3 linked regions of the Homo sapiens genome follow. The protein of the gene in region 1 purifies or fractionates together with the protein of each later gene. This does not show direct contact. Each region holds a gene or a part of one and is shown on either strand. Other genes may lie near its edges.

Region 1 (3,644 bases):
GGTGGCCCCAAGAGGCGGCTCAGAGACACCTTTGGGGAGGGTGGGGGAGACAGCAGGGTTTCACATTTGGCAGGGCAGGGCAGAACGGGAAGGGCTTGGGGGAGAGGATGCGGGAGTCTGACAGCACCAGGTCGGGGCCGACATGCCGAAGGCCCCGTCCGGCCTGCGGCAGGGGCAGAAGGGAGGAAGCTGAGGGCCATGGGGGCCAGCCCGGGATGGAAGCACGCCCTCCCACCACGGGCAGCTTGGCCTGAGCCTGTCGCCCTGGGTCGGGGAGGCCGTGGGGCTGCATGCCCAGTGCCTGTCCTCGGCAATGGCCTCGGGAGGACGTGGCTGTGACTGTGAGACCGGCGTCCAGGAGTGGGGGCAGGGTGGGCCTGGCGGTGGGCACAGGGCCTTAGCTCGCACCAGGCTGGCACTGCTGCTGGGGCTCGGGCGGGCCGCCTGCCCCCTGCTCCGGGCCCCCGGCGAGGTCCACCCGCTGCTCGTCCATGCGCTTAGCCTGCACCCTCTGAATGAGGCTGAAGAAGTCCTCGTCCGGCATGGTAGGGCCCCGGGGCAGTACGTCAGGTGGCGGGCAGCGCTGGTCATCGATCCTGGAGGACTGGGTGGACACAGTGCAGTTGGCGGCCTCACCCCCCCAGCCCCAGTGGTCCGGGGCTGGTCAGCAGCGGTGGTTCCAGAGGCCAGCGTGCACTGTTCACGGGCTTCCCCCTGTCCACCCAGGAAATTGGTTCTGGGGCCTGCCTCGCTCTGGGGTCTTGTGCTGGGAGCCCGGGCCCTGAGCGCAGTCTTCTGGTGGCCCCGCCACCAACCCGCAGGAGCCCAGGGCAGGCCCGCCCAGGAAAAGCAGGTCCAGCGATTCCCACTGGGCATGGGTGTGCCAGGCCCAGGAGACAGTGGCTAGGGCGGCGTTGGATGCCTGCTCCCCACATCTGCTGATCCCCAGGGACGGGCATGCGTGGCCGTCCCTCTGCCCAGCCCTGGAAACCAGCACAGCCTGGGACTGACCCTGGCAGGCCTGAGGTCTCAGCTTCCAGAGCCCGAAGTGTGGCGCCCCCCAGGGCTTCCCCTTGTGTCAGGTGGCTGACCCCGTGGGCCTCGCCTGCTCCAGTGTGCAGGCCAGGGGGCCAAGGGGTTGTCTGGGCTTCTCTGAAGCGCCTGGAGCAGGAGGGACGGGAGCTGGCGCAGGCATGCGTGTGGATGGGGGACTCTGGGCCTCTTGGGTGGGGCTGGTTTGGAGGTGGCTGGTCGGACGCCTGGCCCCGGGCCGAGGTTTCCTCTCTGCTGTGGGGAGGACGGCAGACCTGGAAACGTGCTGGCTTGGTTCGTGGTGGGCCAAGCGGCCTCCACCCCCAGCCTGTTCCCAAGTCTACGGACCCTGAACCCCTTCCCAGCAATGGCTGCACCCCACAGGGATGGCGAGACCCCCAGAGTTTGAGGTCCTAGTTGGGATAGCAGTTGGCTCAGCAGTCTCCACTCCGGCCACCCTACCTGGCTCACCCCCACACAGATGAGGAGGTCATTCCTGGCGTGGCTGCCAGGCTGGAGCCCCGGCCCTGGCTCTGCCCTCTGGGGCTGGACCCTCCGCCCATGCCGTCCACTGTGTGGTCCCTGGATGGTCCCTGTTTTTGTCCCACCAGCCAGCTGGCAGCCCTGGATCCCCCTGCCCTCCCCACTCTGGGGGTGCTATCTGGCCCGTGTTTTCCCTGCCGGGTGTGGAGGGCTGGTGGGGAATCCCTGAGGCCATGAGCTCCAGGACCTGTGACCCCCCAGCCCCCACCCCGAGTTCCTGCATGGCAGGGGGGTGGCACAGCCTGGGAGTGTCCTGGGGTTGCCAGGGGGGGTCTCTGGTGTCTCCAGCAGCCCGGGGTTCCCAGGAGTAGGGCTTCAGGCTCAGACACCCCTGGTCATGTGGTGACACTGGCTGAGTCCCCCAGGAGTCCCTCAAACATGACCGGAGATGGCAGAACCAGCGCCCACCTCACCCCTCAGGACACAAGTTGCCTCCACACACGTGGATGGCAAAGGGGCCGCGAGCCACGCCCGCCCAGGGCCGCAGCCCACCTGGTACTTGATGAGCATGTTGAAGAAGTCGTCCCCCGGCTCCTGGGGCTCGCCGTGGCCTCGGAGGTGCCCTGCATTGCTGTGGGTGATTCGCAGCCCCGGCAGGCTGCCCACGCTGGCCCGCTGGTCGTCCAGCCGGCGGCTCTGGGAGCTGGCGATGAGGTCGAAGAATTCCTCGGTCTGGGGCGAGGCCGTCATCGAGGGCTGGGCTGCGGGGGGCCAGAGGGTGAGACCTGGGACCCAGTGCGGGGTCAAGCCCGAGGCTCGGGCTGCGGCCACAGTGAGCTCTGACCTCTGAGCCCAGCCCAGCCCACTGTGCTGCTGGGGCCATGGCTCCTGGGGGAGTCTCCGCTGACCGGCCTAGGCAGCTCTCAGCTGCTCCCCCTGCTGTGGCTCCCACGCCCACCTCAGGGGCTTCCAGGGGGTGACAGGAGGAGACAGGAGGAGAACGCCAGTCCCCCACGCCCTGCCCCCTCCCTGAGACTGCCCCTGCAGCCTGAGTGTGTCCCGGAGGGCGGGCTGATGACACGCTTCCCGGGATGCTGCTCTGTGGGGGCTGCGGAGGGCGCCCTCAGTGACAGGGTGCTCTGCAGCTGGCCTGCTGGTCTGCCCCCGAAAACTCCTCACTGGAAGCAGGACGGGAGCCCTGGTCCTGGCCCCTGCAGACAAGCCCAAGGGAGGGCCCGGCTGAGGGGGGCACTCACCGATCCTGTCCTCCAGGGTGGGGGCGGCCGTGGCCTCGGCAGCCCCGGCCTGGCCATCGTCCAGGGGACAACGCTGGTCGTCCATGCGGCTGCTCTGGAACTTGGTCAACAGGTCAAAGAAGCACTCCTCGTCCGAAGACGGGGCCCTCGGGATGCTCTGGGGAGGGAGTGGGGTCACCGCAGCCAAAGCTAGCCCCGCAGACCCCCAGACGAGACCGGGGGCTGCTTGCCCAGGCCACACACACTTCTGAGACCCTGGCCAAGATCGGGACTCTAACCTGCCCCCTGTCGGCTACCCCTCCCCCAGAACGTGTCACCCACCCTCGGCACCCGGCTACCCCTCCCCCAGGACGTGTCACCCACCCTCGGCACCCGGCTACCCCTCCCCCAGGACGTGTCACCCACCCTCGGCACCCGGCTACCCCTCCCCCAGGACGTGTCACCCACCCTCGGCACCCGGCTACCCCTCCCCCAGGACGTGTCACCCACCCTCGGCACCCGGCTACCCCTCCCCCAGGACGTGTCACCCACCCTCGGCACCCGGCTACCCCTCCCCCAGGACGTGTCACCCACCCTCGGCACCCGGCTACCCCTCCCCCAGGACGTGTCACCCACCCTCGGCACCCGGCTACCCCTCCCCCAGGACGTGTCACCCACCCTCGGCACCCGGCTACCCCTCCCCCAGGACGTGTCACCCACCCTCAGCACCCGGCTACCCCTACCCCAGGACGTGTCACCACCCTCGGCACCCGGCTACCCCTCTCCCAGGATGTGTCATCCACCCTCGGCACCCGGCTACCCCTCCCCCAGGACGTGTCACTCACCCTCGGCACCCGCCGACTGCCCCGGACTTCTCCCCTCTCATGGGTGCTA
Region 2 (3,644 bases), on another chromosome or scaffold:
TACTTCATTTCCTCATATCCTTCTCCACCTACTCTTTCATCACAAAGCCAGTGGTGACAACAAATTAGGCAAGATTCCAGATTCAAATGTGTAGCTCTTGAAGCCAATTTCGTGAAAACTGTGTGCCTACATTTAGTGGGTAACACAAGGAAATATTCTAATACTGTACCTTTCACCCATGGAAAAAACATTTCCTTCTGAGGGCTAAATTATCAGAGCCAGGTTCGAAACCTCAGCAGGGGCCTTGGGAAAATGCTGAGAAGACTAATGCCAGCAGATCTTTCAGGAACCATTTATCAGCGGTTGCAAAATAAAGGGTGTGTGTCTATATAGGGAGCTCCTCTCTCCTTTAAGCTTATGGCCCTGTGAATAATACTCAGGTTTGGTGACCTCATTATGCTGTCACTCAAAAAGAAAATAAATGTGTGAGATAAAGGGAGAGCAGAAATATATGAATTTCAATGCCTTACAGAAGCATAGGGGAAAAAATAAATATATAAAATCTGGCTCCAAATCTCATGAATAAGAAGAAAAACTCATTAAACCTAGCAAGTGTGCCCAACTGGCTAGACCCAGATGAATCAGACAATGCTTCCTGAGCCTTGGGCTCCTGGCAGCCCAGAGCAAAGGACACGAAACTCAACGCTGGGAAGAAGGGATGAGAGCGTCCATGGACACAAATCTCTCTACCTAGGCCAAGCCTTATGCCAACAAGTCTTGCACTACAATCCTCATAACTTTTAAGATAAAATGATTTGCCAAGGAAAAGGACCATGGGCTTTTTCTCATAACAGGTTCAAGCCATGGGAGATACAGAATGTGATTTTTTTTAAATGAATATGTTACTCTTTTCTGTCATGCCTCTATCTCACTATCCGACAGGCTTCCAGTGAATTTAAATTTCAAATATTTTCCAAAAGGAAATTAAGCCTAGGTTCAAGTGTTGGCAGTTAATTTTGAGAATGTGGCATGCCTGCTAATATTTATTTTCACGTTCTCCCTAAAATTCAGGAAGATAGAAAAGATGACACGCCATTAAGGATGAATACAGTAGACCTGAGGTAGATTAATTCACGTGGTAGCAGCTGAAATCAGTTCATTTACCGTCAGTGACAGAAGATGCAACAGGAGAGCATGAGAGAACACCTGACCCTGAATATGGAGACGAAGAGTCTAGTCCCAGTGCTGCTTAACTCAACCTGTGACCTTGAGTAAGTCCCTTCCCTTTCTGGGCTTGGGTCTTCATTTGTAAAGAGCAGGCTAATGAATTAGTGCAGTGGTTGGCAAAGTCTTTTTTTTTTTTTTTTTTTTTTTTGGAGACAGAGTCTCACTCTGTCCCCAGGCTGGAGTGCAGTGGCGTGATCTTGGCTCACTGCAACCTCCGCCTCCCAGGTTCAAGCGATTCTGCTGCCTCAGCCTCCTGAGTGGCTGGGACTACAGGCCCGCGCCAGCATGTCCAGCTAATTTTTGTATTTTTAGTAGAGATGGGGTTTCACCATGTTGGCATGGATGTTCTTGATCTCTTGATCTCGTGATCTGCCCATCTCGGCCTCCCACAGTGCTGGGATCAGGCGTGAGCCACTGTGTCCTGCCAGCAAAGTCATTTAAGGCAATGAACATTTTGTCCAGATAAAATCATTCAAAGTTCAACAGAAGCTAAAACAAATTCAAAATGGCAGGTTGAACACATGAATTTATCTCCACTCCTTCTAGAAACTCCATTAAGTTATTATTAATAAATATATACTACTGGCCGGGCGTGGTGGCTGATGCCTGTAATCCCAACACTTTGGGAGGCCGAGGCAGGCAGATCACTTGAGGTCATAAGTTTGAGACCATCCTGGCCAACATGGTAAAACCCTGTCTCTACAAAAATTCAAAAATTAGCCATGCATGGTGGTATGTAGCTATAATCCCAGCTACTCAAGAGGCTGAGGCAGGAGAATCGCTTGAACCTGGGAGGCGGAGGTTGCAGTGAGCCAAGATTGCGCTACTGCCCTTCAGCCTGGACAACAGAGCAAGACTCTGTCTCAAAAAAAAGAGAGAAAAAAAAATACACACACACACACACACACACACACACTACTGAGCATTTACTACATGATTATTTGAAGTACATTAACTAATTGAATCCTCAACACTCAAGTAGGTGGTGATGTGCATTTTACAGACGAGACAGAGAATCACCAGTGTTTAAGGAAGCTGCTCATTTTCACAGCTAACAAGTGGCAGACCCAGAACTCAAACGTAGGCAGTGTGGCTGCAGAGTCTGTGTGATACCGCCTTTCGGACTGATGATCAAGGAACAGCAAAGCTCTGAAGGAAAAAGATGCAGAGAGAGACAGCACATTAGAAGGGTCAACAAAATTTTAGAAGGGTCAACAAAATTTTAGAAGAAGAAAAGAAGACACATGAGTAGTAACTGACTTAGAGGATACTGAGTATTGCGGATGGCAAGCCACTGAAGAATCCCCTCCAAAATGGAACCACTGGAGGTACCAGTTTCCTCTGAAGTTGTGAGCAAGAAGAAGGGCCGAAATCAGGAAGTACTGGTCCCCCTCCCCAGACAAGCAACTGCAGAAGACTGGAGGTTTACTCTTCAGACAGGATGAACAAGAGCCTCTGGATCTGGGTAACCAGGGCACCACAGAAGACAAGGAAGTGGTACCATTTAGGGGGATTAAGTGAAAGTCTGCATACAGAAGGGAGAACCTCCAGACCTCTCCTACCATAAGGCTCCCAAAATAACAGCCAGGCTTATACCACCTAGGAAGAAGCCTGGAGGAAGATCTACGGACTTTGAACACATCCCACAGAAAAACGACAGGTCCATCACCCTACAACCATGGCTCTCAGAACGTGGTCCCAGACTAACAGTAGCATCACAGGGGAACCTGTCAGAAATATGAGTTTTCAGATCCATGCCAGACCTAATGAATCAGAAATTCTGGGTGAGGTCCAACAACCAGCGTTTTAACAAGGCCACCAGGTGATTCTGACGTCCACTGAAGTTTAAGAACCACTGCCTGACAGGGAGGCCCACCAGTCAAGAAAACATCTCACACCCAAAAGCTTCCAACCAGTTTTTCAGTGTCTGTTTACTTGAAAAACACTGTGGAGTCACCAGAAAACTGAAGGAAGACTTTGACAAGAAAGAGAGACAAAATAGATTTCCCAGGACAGCTCTGGTGGCAAGTAGTGAAATGTGCAGAGCCTGGTTTGCATGCTCTTTCCCCGGTCCCACCATTATATTGCTACAGAGCTACTCCTTGGGCTCTACAATAAAGTTTTCAAAATCAGTGAAGTAAATGCTCTCTACAGTCCCGTCCAGCTCTAGCCCATGCGTTTATACTAGTCCTTCCCACTGAAGGCTTTTTATTAAAGAGAGAAAAAAATAAATATACTGGTCCTTATGTTCTAGATCCCTGAAGCTAACACAGCAATTCGGGCTGACCGTCTCAGTTGAAACTACGTCTGATTCTTTTTTTTTTTTTTTGAGACAGGGTCTTACTCTGTTGCCCAGGCTGGAGTGCAGTGGCACGATCTCGGCTCACTGCAGCCTCTGCCTCCCAGGCTCAAGTGATCCTCCCACCTCAGCCTCCTGAGCAGCTAAGAAAGACTAAAGGTACACACCACTACAGCTA
Region 3 (4,093 bases), on another chromosome or scaffold:
AGAATACCTAAACACGGAAAAGAATTTCTGGCTAGGTCAGGATAGGACATTTGCTGGACTGGAATTCGAATCTTTTTCGTTTCACAGCCTTCCCGGGCACTAACAGAGAAGAAGTCTTTCTCCATGGAAAAAAGAGCTAGCGCTTTTTCAACCCAATGTCCTTCTGGTCTCCTTGCTACACTTCCTTTCCACCTAAGTTTCCCTATCTCTGCGGGAGCACACACTAACTCCGCTCCTTCTCTCAATCTTCAAACTTATTTGGAGGGTACCGAAGTTTCTGCGCAAATTTTGCGCGCAGTTCCCACGTGCCCGCTTCAGGTCTTCAACTTTCCCTATTTTCTTTCTCCCGGAATCTCACTCTGAACTTTTGCCTCTGCGCTTCCTTGCAGAGAACCGTGGGGACAAAGCGGCGCTGTGAAAGGGGGTGGAATGATCATCTCTACCCCGAAACTGACAAGTTGCCCCACTCCCGCCCCCTCTTGGTAGATCCTCCCCCACTGAGCGTTCATTAGCATAAAACTGGTCTGGCTGGGGACCGGTCCCGCCGCCTCCTCCGTGCGCGCGCTTTGCTGGGCTGGGGAAGCCAAGGCACAGAGTATCAGGGCCGCTGAGCATCCCAGTGCAAAGTGTGCACCTGCTCGCTGCTTAAGCTACTAACCTTTAAGAAAAGAAAAGAGAGAGAAAGACAGAAAGAAAACACACTTTGGAGAGAAAGAGACAGAGAACTCGAAAGAGAGATCGAGAGAGAGCGCGCTCCGTGGCTTTCCTTCCTAATCTCTCCAGTTCAGCTTCCATTGAGTCTCGGGCAATCGGTCACCTCCCCCTACCGAAGAAAACCTGCTGGTTGCCCTCGCATCTGCCCCGGGGCCACCGTACCCCTTTATTTCCTTTGCACACGCACTCGCTCACACGCGGACACACGCACACATGCGCGAACACACAGACCCCTCCCCTCGGCTGGCTTCCCCTCCGGGCTTCGGAGCTCAAGTCCCCGGAGCCCATCCCCCGGGATGGACCCGGTCTCTCAGCTTCGCGGGTCATTTCCCTCCCGACCTCAAAGTGCCCTCCTCGGGTGCTGGTCCGCTCCCTCGCCTTTCCCAGCGGGGCCCTCACCCGGAGCGCGTCTCCCCGCTCCCCGAGCCCTGCGGAGCAGGTCACGACCTCCCCCCGCCCCCGGGACACCGCTCGGCGCCACAGATCAGCCCTGTCGGTGCCGGGAGGCTGGCCGTGGAACCCAGGTCCTGGGGAGCGCACGAACGCGGACAGCAGCGCTGAGAGGGGTCTCCAGGCGCCCGCGCGCCCGGGGCAGGGGGCTGTGGCTCCAGCAAAGGCGCCGTCCTCCTCCCTCTCGTCCCCTCCGCCCCGAGGCTCGGCTTTCCCACATCCCACAGCAGCCCATCCCCGGGACCCAGAGGGCAAGGGGAGGACCGGGCCGAAGAGCGAGGTCTGGGCAGGGTGAGGTGCCAACTTCTCAGGGGGTCGGGCGCGGCTGGCGAGCCCCGAGCAGGGAGAGGAGAGGGCCGCGCTCGCCGGGGCGCGCGGCTCGCGGGCGCGCAGAGCGAGCGGCGCCGGGAAAGGAGCGAGGGCAGGCGAGCAGGCTGGTGGGAAGGGGCGCGGGCGGCGGGGGCTATCCCCCCCGACTCACCTTGCGTTGGTGCAGTCATTGTAGAGGGTCTCGAAGTCCTTCCTGGAGATGAGTTTGCAGCGGTTCACTCCTGGCTGGATGGCGCCCAGTCCCCTCAGGATGCGAACTTGTTCCACATTGCACACCACCGGCGTGATCTCCAGCCGCTTCAGCTTGGTGTAGACCGTATGCAAGCCCCCCACCAAGTGCTTCAGGAACAGGTCGAAAGCCTGGGGCAGGCAGATCAGCTCGCAGCCCTCCACCGTGAAGGAAGCCACTTTGGCCCCCCTCAGATCCACCATTTTGCACTCATTATTCTGAGGGGTGTTTTCCACTGGGGACGGGGTTGAGTACACGGGTTTCCCGGGGAGGGGGCCGCAGCTGCTGCTGCTACTGCTGCTGCTGCTACTACTGCTGCTGCTGCTGCTGCTGCTACTGCTGCTGCTGCTGCTGCCGGTGCTGGCGTTGATGGGGGTGCTGGAAGCGACGCCGCCGCCAGCGCTGATGCCGCCGCCGCCGCCGCCGCTGCCGTTGCTCGCGGCCGCCAGGTTGGGGTTGCAGTTGCTGCCACCGCCGCCGCCGCCACCGCCGCCTCCGTTGCCGCTGCTGCCGCCGCCGCCTCCGCTGCCGCCGCCGCCGCCGCCGCCGCCGGTAGAGGTGACTGTGGCCGCCGCCGCCGCCGCCGAAGCGATGGGCTCCGGGCGGAACAGAGTTGGCCCAGAGGACGCCGGGGGTCCGATGGAAGGAGCCGGAGACGAAGTCGCCGAAGAGGTGGAGGTGGTGGTGCCAGAGGAGGAAGCAGACGTGGAGATTGGGGGTTGAGGGGGGACCAGCTGGGTCGGAGGGATCAAAGCCGCCGGCACTGCCATGGTCACATATAAGGGGAAACAGACGGAGGAGAAGCGAGAGGAAAAGTTGCCACACACCCCCGGGAGGGGAAGGGGAAAAAAGGGGGGAGAAGGAGCGAGGGGGGCAACAACAACTCCGGGAGAGAACGAGAAGGAGAAAGGGAGAGAAGGGGGAGAAAAGGAGGTGAAGGTAATAAAGAGCGAGCGCAAGAGGGGCGAGCACGAGAGGCGCTCTGGAGAGGAACGCACAAAAGTGTCCCGCAAGTCGAAATGCGAGTCCTCTCCGGGGGCTGGGATCGAGGGCTGGTTTGGGGGTGGGGGTGGGGCGGGGAGGGTCGGCTGTTGTTGTGTGGGTCTCGCTCTAGCACAAAGTTAAGGATGAAGGTGAAAAGGAGGAGGTTTGAAGGACTTGGGCTCTCCCTGGCAAGTACATTGATCAAAGATTGAGAGGGGAATGACAGAGAGAAAATGAGCTGAAAAGTGCAGGCTGCCGGCTGGACGAGTTGTTGTTGTCACACGGTGCAGAGGGGAGGAGCTCCGGAAACTTGAAATACCCTTTGAAGCCGCAAAAACCTCACTCACTAGTATTAACCCAAATTATCCAACCAGGAACTCGGAGCAGAGACTCCGAGAGCGCGAGACACTGGAGAGGGAGCGTGCGAGGAAAGGAGGAGGGGAGGGGGAGGATACGGAAAGAAACTGTGGGAGGGACGGAGAGGAAAAGCCGGGGACACAGAAGTGGCGATCGGAAAAGGAGAGGGAGATCATCTACTTCTCTTCTACTACTACCGTTAGATTGCATGTCTCACATTCCATTTCGTCCGCGGGGACTGGTAATTTTTTCCAAAGCTTCTAAACAATCGCCCGCCAACTTAAAGAGGAGCCTGAGCGCGCCGAGCTCTCTCCTTCCAGGATTTAGGATCCATCTCCACGCGTTTTGGCAATGAGCTAGAAACGAAAACACAGCCCCCACTTCACGATTATTCAGAAATTATTTTGAGGAAAATTCACATGTAAGCAAAGCGTAATGTTCTTTTGCATCTGATTGTTTATTTCTCTACTAAATTATTTATTTATATAAAGATAGTGAAAATTCCAGGACAGTTTTCAAGTGGTGAGAAGAAAGTCAGTCCGAAATCGCTTAAGAATAATGGAAAGCTCTGTATTCAATTCCATATTTCCTAATAGGTTGTGGAAAGAAATGCTTGCCTTGATGTGGATGATTTAGAATAACTTCACTGTCTCCCCAAAAGCCAGTCAGAAATACCTGTTAAACCTAGAGCTATCAAGGAGATAAGGTATCCTTGAAGATTTAGAAAGTGGAAAAAGGGTTTTCTTACCCAAAACTCTATAATTAATTCACCTGTCTTACACAGTAACCAACTATCCTCATGTCCTTTAAGACCCAAAGCCAATTGCTAATGTGTTTTTTGGACAACACAATAGTTTTTTTTTTTTTTTTTTCATGTTTGAAAAGTGCTGCTGTAGTTTTGGAAAGTCCTTTTCAATTTGTCAGTAAATATATGTTTTGTAAATAATGGGAAGAACAAAAACAAAGCTCACTAGTTGACTTGTAAAGACTTGGGTAGCTGTGCTTAAAACAACATGAGGCTGAGTTTAG

Evidence for each region.
Region 2: the proteins of GPSM1 (region 1) and KLHL18 purify together in Homo sapiens (affinity purification with mass spectrometry; 2 studies listed by BioGRID and IntAct, with this or other methods). This does not show direct contact.
Region 3: the proteins of GPSM1 (region 1) and DACH1 purify together in Homo sapiens (affinity purification with mass spectrometry; 2 studies listed by BioGRID and IntAct, with this or other methods). This does not show direct contact.

What each region holds. Positions count from the first base shown.
Region 1 is NC_000009.12:136,354,974-136,358,617, reverse strand, and holds part of GPSM1 (G-protein-signaling modulator 1), read right to left. Parts: exon of another isoform or gene 3,596-3,644; intron 2,929-3,595; coding exon 2,772-2,928; intron 2,277-2,771; coding exon 2,068-2,276; intron 605-2,067; coding exon 398-604; 3' UTR 1-397. UniProt on the Homo sapiens protein: Guanine nucleotide dissociation inhibitor (GDI) which functions as a receptor-independent activator of heterotrimeric G-protein signaling.
Region 2 is NC_000003.12:47,285,892-47,289,535, reverse strand, and holds part of KLHL18 (kelch-like protein 18), read right to left. Parts: intron 2,301-3,644; exon of another isoform or gene 2,188-2,300; intron 1-2,187. UniProt on the Homo sapiens protein: Substrate-specific adapter of a BCR (BTB-CUL3-RBX1) E3 ubiquitin-protein ligase complex required for mitotic progression and cytokinesis.
Region 3 is NC_000013.11:71,864,277-71,868,369, forward strand, and holds the start of DACH1 (dachshund homolog 1), read right to left. Parts: upstream 2,929-4,093; 5' UTR 2,494-2,928; coding exon 1,646-2,493; intron 1-1,645. UniProt on the Homo sapiens protein: Transcription factor that is involved in regulation of organogenesis. Seems to be a regulator of SIX1, SIX6 and probably SIX5.